Linked DNA regions of Homo sapiens. The protein of the gene in region 1 purifies or fractionates together with the protein of each later gene. This does not show direct contact. Each region holds a gene or a part of one and is shown on either strand. Other genes may lie near its edges.

Evidence for each region. Proteins that work in one complex are often made in the same cells at the same time.
Region 2: the proteins of PNOC (region 1) and NUP155 purify together in Homo sapiens (co-immunoprecipitation; 2 studies listed by BioGRID and IntAct, with this or other methods). This does not show direct contact.

The regions. Positions count from the first base shown.
Region 1 is NC_000008.11:28,327,194-28,330,947, reverse strand, and holds part of PNOC (prepronociceptin isoform 1 preproprotein), read right to left. Parts: intron 1,814-3,754; 5' UTR 1,791-1,813; coding exon 1,665-1,790; intron 1-1,664.
Region 2 is NC_000005.10:37,301,398-37,305,151, forward strand, and holds part of NUP155 (nuclear pore complex protein Nup155), read right to left. Parts: coding exon 3,660-3,754; intron 3,447-3,659; coding exon 3,342-3,446; intron 2,018-3,341; coding exon 1,863-2,017; intron 1,512-1,862; coding exon 1,382-1,511; intron 154-1,381; coding exon 40-153; intron 1-39.

The sequences.
Region 1 (3,754 bases):
AGATGGCATCTTTTGAAGGAAGTTATTTGACTATAAAGTAAAAAACAATTGAGCTATACTGGATTTAATAGGAGAGGAGTAACTATCTGGACTGAAATGTAGATAGTTGACAAAGCAGTTTATTTAATGAAGAAAAAGTTAATACTGGATTTGCACCTTAAGTTGGAAATTTAAAATATAAGAGAGCATTTTGGTACTAAGGGGTTCACTGTTGAGTTATCTGCAATATCAAAAATAAAGAGCACAGGCCAGGCGTGGTGGCTCACGCCTGTAAATCCCAGCACTTTGGGAGGCTGAGGCGGGTGGATCATGAGGTCATGAGATTGAGACCATCCTAACACGGTGAAACCCCATCTCTACTAAAAATACAAAAAAAAAAAAAAAAAAGTAGCCGGGTGTGGTGGTGGGCACCTTAGTCCCAGCTACTCGGGAGGCTGAGGCAGGAGAATGGCATGAACCCAGGAGGCAGAGCTTGCAGTGAGCCGAGGTTGCGCCACTGCACTCCAGCCTGGGCGACAGAGCAAGACTCCGTCTCAAAAAAAAAAAAAAAATAAAATAAAATAAAATAAAATAAAATAAAATAAAGGGCACATACCTGTTCAGTGGTTAAACAAATTACACGGTCCTTCTGTATCCACAGGGGATTGGTTTCAGGATACTAAATCTGCAGATGCTCAAGTCCCTTATATAAAATGGCTATGCGGAGGGGCACGGTGGCTCATGCCTGTAATCCCAGCACTTTGGGAGGATGAGGTGGGTGGATCACTTGAGGTCAGGGGTTCAAGACCAGCCTGGCCAATGTGGTGAAACCCGTCTCTACTAAAAATATAAAAAATAGCGGGGCGTGGTGGTGGGCGTCTGTAATCCCAGCTACTTGGGAGGCTGAGGCAGAAGAATTGCTTGAACCTGCGAGGTGGATGTTGCAGTGAACTGAGATCGCACCACTGCATTCCAGCCTGAGTGACAGAGTGAGACTCTGTCTCAAAAAAAATGAATAAATAAAAATAAAAATGATCAATAAAATGGCTATGCACATCCTCCTGTACACTTTAAATCATCTCTGGATTACTTATAATACTTAATATAATGTAAATGCTATTTAAGTAGTTGTTATGCTGTATTGCTTTATTTGTATTATTTTTCATTGATGTATTAGTATTTTTTATTTTTTTCTGAATATTTTCTATCCATGGTTAGTTGAATCCTTGAATGTGAAACCAGTAGATACCAAGGGCCAACTGTAGACTATACTCATGGAAAGAAATAATAACATGAGAAATTTATCCTGGTATAATATAGTAAGTGAAAAAAAGTAGGATTCTTTCTCTGACTGGTGTAATTAAGGAGGATTTAAATTTCTCTTGTTTTATACTTTTCTGAATTTGCCAAACTCTCTGAAATGAGTAACATTATTTTAATCCTGGGAATGACCTGGCATCACAGGCAGGGCTCTTCCTGCAGGTGGTAAGGTGGAAAGATCGTAAGGTTCTGGGTCAGAAGAGCAGCTCCTGTCTGATCTGTTTCCTATGGGCCATGTAATGCTGAGCAAGTCCTGTGAGCTGTGGGAGAGGCCTTGGCTTCTCACTCAGAGTCTGCTCTGGAGTAGGGAGGGAGGAGGTAGTCAGGGAGGAGGACAGCCTCTCTGCCTTGCCTTGGAGACCTACCTCCAGGTCGAAGCTGTCCAGGGCTGGGTGGAGCTTCTCCTGGCATGTGAGACAGTCCCTCTGACAACTGCTGAACACACTGGAGAAGAGACTGAGCAGCAGCAGGTCACAAAGCAGGACTTTCATGGTGCAGGAGCAGGAAGCAGGTGCTGGAACATACAGGAAGCATGGCAATGAGTACAGCCATTCTCGGAGGGCTGCTCAGGGCCAGAGACCTAACCCAGAGAATGCAGGAAAGACACTTCTCTGCTGTCTCTGGCAGGATGGCACTAGGGGCCTGTGATTCACTTTGCAGGGGTGTAAATTGTCAAGGCCATAGGCGACCCTGCCTATCACCTAGGCTCAGTGTTCATGTAGAGGCTTGTTAGTGTGTCTGGGTTCCTGGGTTAGTCCTGGGTGGCAGGACACCCCTGTGATTCCTGCCACCTGGCTGGCCTCGACACCTCATAGGCACTTTTGGGAGCAGCTGTGTGGTGGCAGAGATAGCTTTCTTGGGAGCTAAAGGCATCGCTTTGCAGTTTACCAGCATGTGACATTAAATCAACCACTTTGAGCCTCAGTTTTCATAGCCCATAAAAGGGGAACAGTGGCACCTGCCTTATCACAGGCCTATTGTGAAGATGAAATGAGATCTGTAAGGGGAGTTTTGCAAAGTGCTGTGCAAAAGTAAGATGAGTAAAATATGACATTTATTAATGACTCAAATGCTTCCTTTCATCCTCCTGGCCTTCCCTGCTGCAGCCAGGAATGCCCCCAACCCCCCATACCCCGAATTCTCTCTTCCAGGTACTTGCCTCTTATCCCTGTTAGATGTGAGCTAGTGCTATGGTCTATCTCTGTCTCCCTAAAATTCCTATGTTGAAATCCTAACCTCCAACGTGATGATATTAAGAGATGGGATCTTTGGGCCAGGCACAGTGGCTCATGCCTGTAATCCCAGAACTTTGGGAGGCCAGGGCAGGTGGATCACTAGAGGTCAGGAGTTCAAGACCAGCCTGGCCAACATCATGGCAAAACCCTGTCTTTACTAAAAATACAAATATATATATATATCCGGGTGTGGTGGTACACACTTGTAATCCTAGCTACTTGGGAGGCTGAGGCGAGAGTATTGCTTGAACCTGGGAGGTGGAGGTTGCAGTGAGCCGAGATTGTGCCATTGCACACCAGCCTGGTTGACAGAGTGAGACTCTGTCTCAAAAAAAAAAAAAAAAAAAAAAAAAAGAGAGAGAGAGATGGAACCTTTGGGAGATGATGAGATCACAAGACTAGAGCCCTTATGAATGGGATTAGTGCCCTTATAAAAGAGGCCCCAGAGAGCTAGCTAGTCCCTTCCACCACTTGAGGACACAGCAAGAAGGCAAAATCTAAGAGCCAGGAATAGACCTTCACCAGACACTGAATCTGCAGGCACCTTGATCTCAAACTTCCCAGCCTCCAGGACTGTGAAAAAGTTGTTTCTGTTGTTGGCAGGGCAGAGTGGCTCATGCCTGTAATCCCAGCACTTTGGGAGGCTGAGGCAGGTGGATCACTAGAGGTCAGGAGTTCAAGACTAGCCTGGCCAACATGGTGAAACCCCATCTCTACTAAAAATACAAAAATTAGCCAGAAATTGCTTGAACCCAGGAGGCGGAGGTTGCAGTGGTCCAAGATCACGCCACTGCACTCCAGCTTGGGTGACAGAGCAAGACTCCATCTCAAAAAAAAAAAAAAGAAAAGAATTTTATGTTGTTTATAAGCCACCCAGTATACGCTCTTTTGTTACAGTAGCCTGGACAGACTAAGACAGTTGGCTTCCCGAGCAAAGGGCCATGTTATTCACCTTGGCATTCCAGGCCAAGCACAGGCCCTGGCATGTGGAACTTGCTATTTAAAACCGAACAAAGAAACTATTCCAAGATAGTAGCTCCAAGGATTGGTTGATTAGATCAGTGGTTTGCAATCTTATGTAGGATTGCCTGAAAGGTGTGCAGTTTTCACTGTTTCTCCTTGAAACTTATCTTTTGATCAAGGCTTCTAAATCTGAAAGATGCTTCCCTGTACTGTATCATTTTGGGTCCCTGTAGAACCATCTTTAGGTAGAGGATTAA
Region 2 (3,754 bases), on another chromosome or scaffold:
AGGTAACTACTATAAAAATTTCACTTGCTTTTTTATTACCTTAGTTATGTCCATCAGCTCAGAATCCAGCTGAGAAACTGCATCCTGTACAGAAGAATGATGGGAATACTGCCTTTGTAGTGTCTCCTGTATCTGAAGTTGGATCCTAGCAACCTAGTTTGGGCAGAAAACAGGATGTCTTAATTTATTTATGATAAATCAACATACGTTTGAAAGAACGGATCCTACTATCTGACTTTAAGTTTGCTAAAATAATGTATAAATGAAGATTTCTATCATAATAGGCTAATATTATCATAACAGACATCAACTAAACATAATAGATTTCACAGGAAGTATACTGTGGCAGACTCCTTGCTGCCCAATACTTATACCTTCCAAGACTGTAGCCAAATGGTTAGACTATACAGCTCAGCCTCCTCTGTAGGGGAGGTATGGCCATACAACCAAGTTCTCTTCAAAGGAATGTGAGTAGAAGTAGTGTGTCATGTCAGGGCTATAGTTTTTAAGACAGTGAATGTGTTCTTTCTTTTCCTTCCACCCTCTGCTGAAGATAAAGCAGAGGCCCTAGGGAATGGTAGTGCCAGAAAATAGAACTTGGGTTCCTAAATCAACCACACGGAGGAAAGCCAGCTGCCAATCAGGAAGACTCACCTTGGATTTTTGTGAATAAGAAACAAACTTTTGTATTTGGACGATGGTATGTTTTTGATTCTCTTAGTTAGGGAATTTTAGCCTACTCTACTTCATACATCTACTTATTTGCTTCCAAAATAAATGGTGAATGTGATGTAATCCACTTGCTGTTGAAACAGTTGGGAAAAACATTTATTTTTTATTATTATTATTTTTTGAGACAGAGTCTCAGTCTGTCTCCCAGGCTGGAATGCAGTGGTGCAATCTCAGCTCACTGCAACCTCCGCTTCCTGGGTTCAAGCAATTCTCCTGCCTCAGTCTCCCAAGTAGCTGGGACTACAGGTGTGTGCCACCACCCCCGGCTAATTCTTGTATTTTTTTAAGTAGAGACAAGGTTTCGCCATATTGGCCAGGCTGGTCTCGAACTTCTGACCTCATGATCTGGCTGCCTCGGCCTCCCAAAGTGCTGGGATTACAGGCGTGAGCCACTGCACCCAGCTGGGAAAAACCTTTCGAAGTGCCAAAGAGAAAACTTCTAAATTATAGCAATGTTTTTATGACCCAAGTGCATCCTTAAAAATCTTTAAGATTTATATCTAAACATAAAAATAAATATAAACAGACAAAAGCAACTAGAATAATAATGACTTCTCAGACCTATTACTTACCAAGGGAAGAATGGAATGTGGAATAACTATGTGGCTAGTACTCAATGTGGACACAGCTTAAGATCTTTAGCACTTACCTCCATTTTTTCTTCTAATTCATGAAGAAATTCACCATCGGCAGCTATTGATGAAATGGCAGTGGAACTTTTGGCACTAAGAATGGCTCGAGCAATGTACTCTAGTCGCTGCTGAAGTGAAATTTCTGTGCTAGAAGGGAAAACGCTTATTTTTAGTTACACAATTTCTTAAGGATTGATGATACAAATACGTCAATTAGTATGTACTGTTTCATACCAAACACACATAAAAAGCCATCTGAAACTTGAAAAAAAATCATTAGATTTAAAAAAAAATCTATTTTAGATTTCTCATAAGAGAGATCCACAATTTTAGACAACACATAAAGAAATACATTTATGACTAAAAAGTAACATCCTATTTAAAAAATTTAGGTCAGTATATTAAAACTTAGATTCTTCTAAAATTAAAGAAAACTGAATGTAAGTACATATAGCTCAGTTTTGAATCATTCTTCACAATAAGAATATTATGCCATACCTATGCATGTCAGCCAGTCTGGACAGTACACGAGCAGCATTACTGAAACTTCTGTTCTTCTCGTAATACCGCCAGAGTAAATCCATATAACGAACTCTGTTTTGATCAACTTTGGCCATTCGGACTAGATGTGGCTCCAGAAATGGAGAAGCAACCTAGAAATTATATAGTTATTCAGAAAAATTTTCTAACCACCTACAGATAATGTTCCTGATAAGGAAAATATAGTATTTTTAAGTCAACTACAACTTTGCCTTGTTTTATGAAAACAAGCAAAATTATAATCCAATACTAACAGATAAAAGAGAGGGCAAATTTTCTTATTATAAACAATTTTTGTTTTACCACAGTTAGCATAAGAGTTTCCAAAACAATTCTATTAGGTTGATAACAATAATTTAGTAGGCTGGGCATGGCGACTCATGTCTGTAATCCTCGCACTTTGGGAGGCCGAGGTGGGCAGATCATGTGAGCTCAGGAGTTTGAGACCAGCCTGGGCAATATATGGCAAAACCTCGTCTCTACAAAAAAATTAGCTGGGTGTGGTGGTGCGGGCCTATAGTTCTAGTTACTCAGGAGGGTTAGGTGTGAGGATCACCTGAGCCTAGGGAGGTCAAGGCTACAGTGAGCCATTATCGTGCCATTGCACTGCACTTCAGCCTAAGCTACAGATTGAGACCCTGCCTCAAAAAAGAAAAGGAAATTTGGCCGGGCACAGTGGTTCATGCCTGTAATCCCAGCACTTCGGGAAGCTGAGGTGGGCAGATCACCTGAGCTCAGGAGTTTGAGACCAGCCTGGCCAACATGGTAAAACCCCGTCTCTACTAAAAAGATATAAAAATTAGCTGTGCGTGGTGGCGGGTGCCTGTAATCCCAGCTACTTGGGAGGCTGAAGCAGGAGGATTGCTGGAACCCGGGAGGCGGAGGTTGCAGTGAGCTGAGATCATGCCACTGCACTCCAGCCTGGGCAACAGAGCCAGACTCCATCTCAAAAAAAAAAAAAAAAAAAAAAAAGGGAAATTTACTATAAAATTACAAATTTTTAAATAAACTTTGATAACACAGCTATTGATTCCTAGACATTGAGCTCAAAGGCATTATTGAAATTATCAAATGCTATGTATTCATTAAACAGATTGAGGAACACTGAAACTTAGGGTAGGTAAAAGGACATATCTGAAGTCACAGTGACTTAACAGCAGAGTTAAGATAAGATGACCTACAGGACTCATATTCATAATCCAGTGATTTCTACCCCGCAATACAAACTATCCCAATCAGCTTCGAATTAACAAGAAAATTGGAGCAGTAGCCTACTTTGCCCCTTAGGAAAAGATACTGCATTACTCAGCTTTATACTAACATCTAATAGCAGGCATGGGATGAGAAACTGAATTTTTTACATCTATATATGTGCTTAAATCATTGAGTTATGCTCCTTAAGAATAATTAACACAACTGCAATAAAAAAAGATTTACCTGTAGCAGCTTATCTGCAAGGTCGACTTGTATTAGCCAATTATAAAGGGCAATACTAAAGAGCTCATCCTTGGATCGCTGTGACAATTTAAGCATTTGTTCAAACTAAAATAAAGAAAATAGTAAAAATTAGCAGTTAAAGGCTCTGTTTCTGGGCATCACAACCCTTTAGCCCTATAAACTCCAGTAAGAAATCAAGAATCCTTACATGATAACTTCTAAGAACTACCACCTTTCCCCAAGATGACTGTGCTACCATTACCATGGAGAACTTCTAAACAGTGTATTCTCAGAATGAAAATATACTATGTCCCTTACATGATGTCCTGCTTCTTCATTACTCAGCATATTTGGATCAGATGACAACACTGGAGGACCAGGTTTTTTGGGTACACTGGGAGACTGAGGAGCGG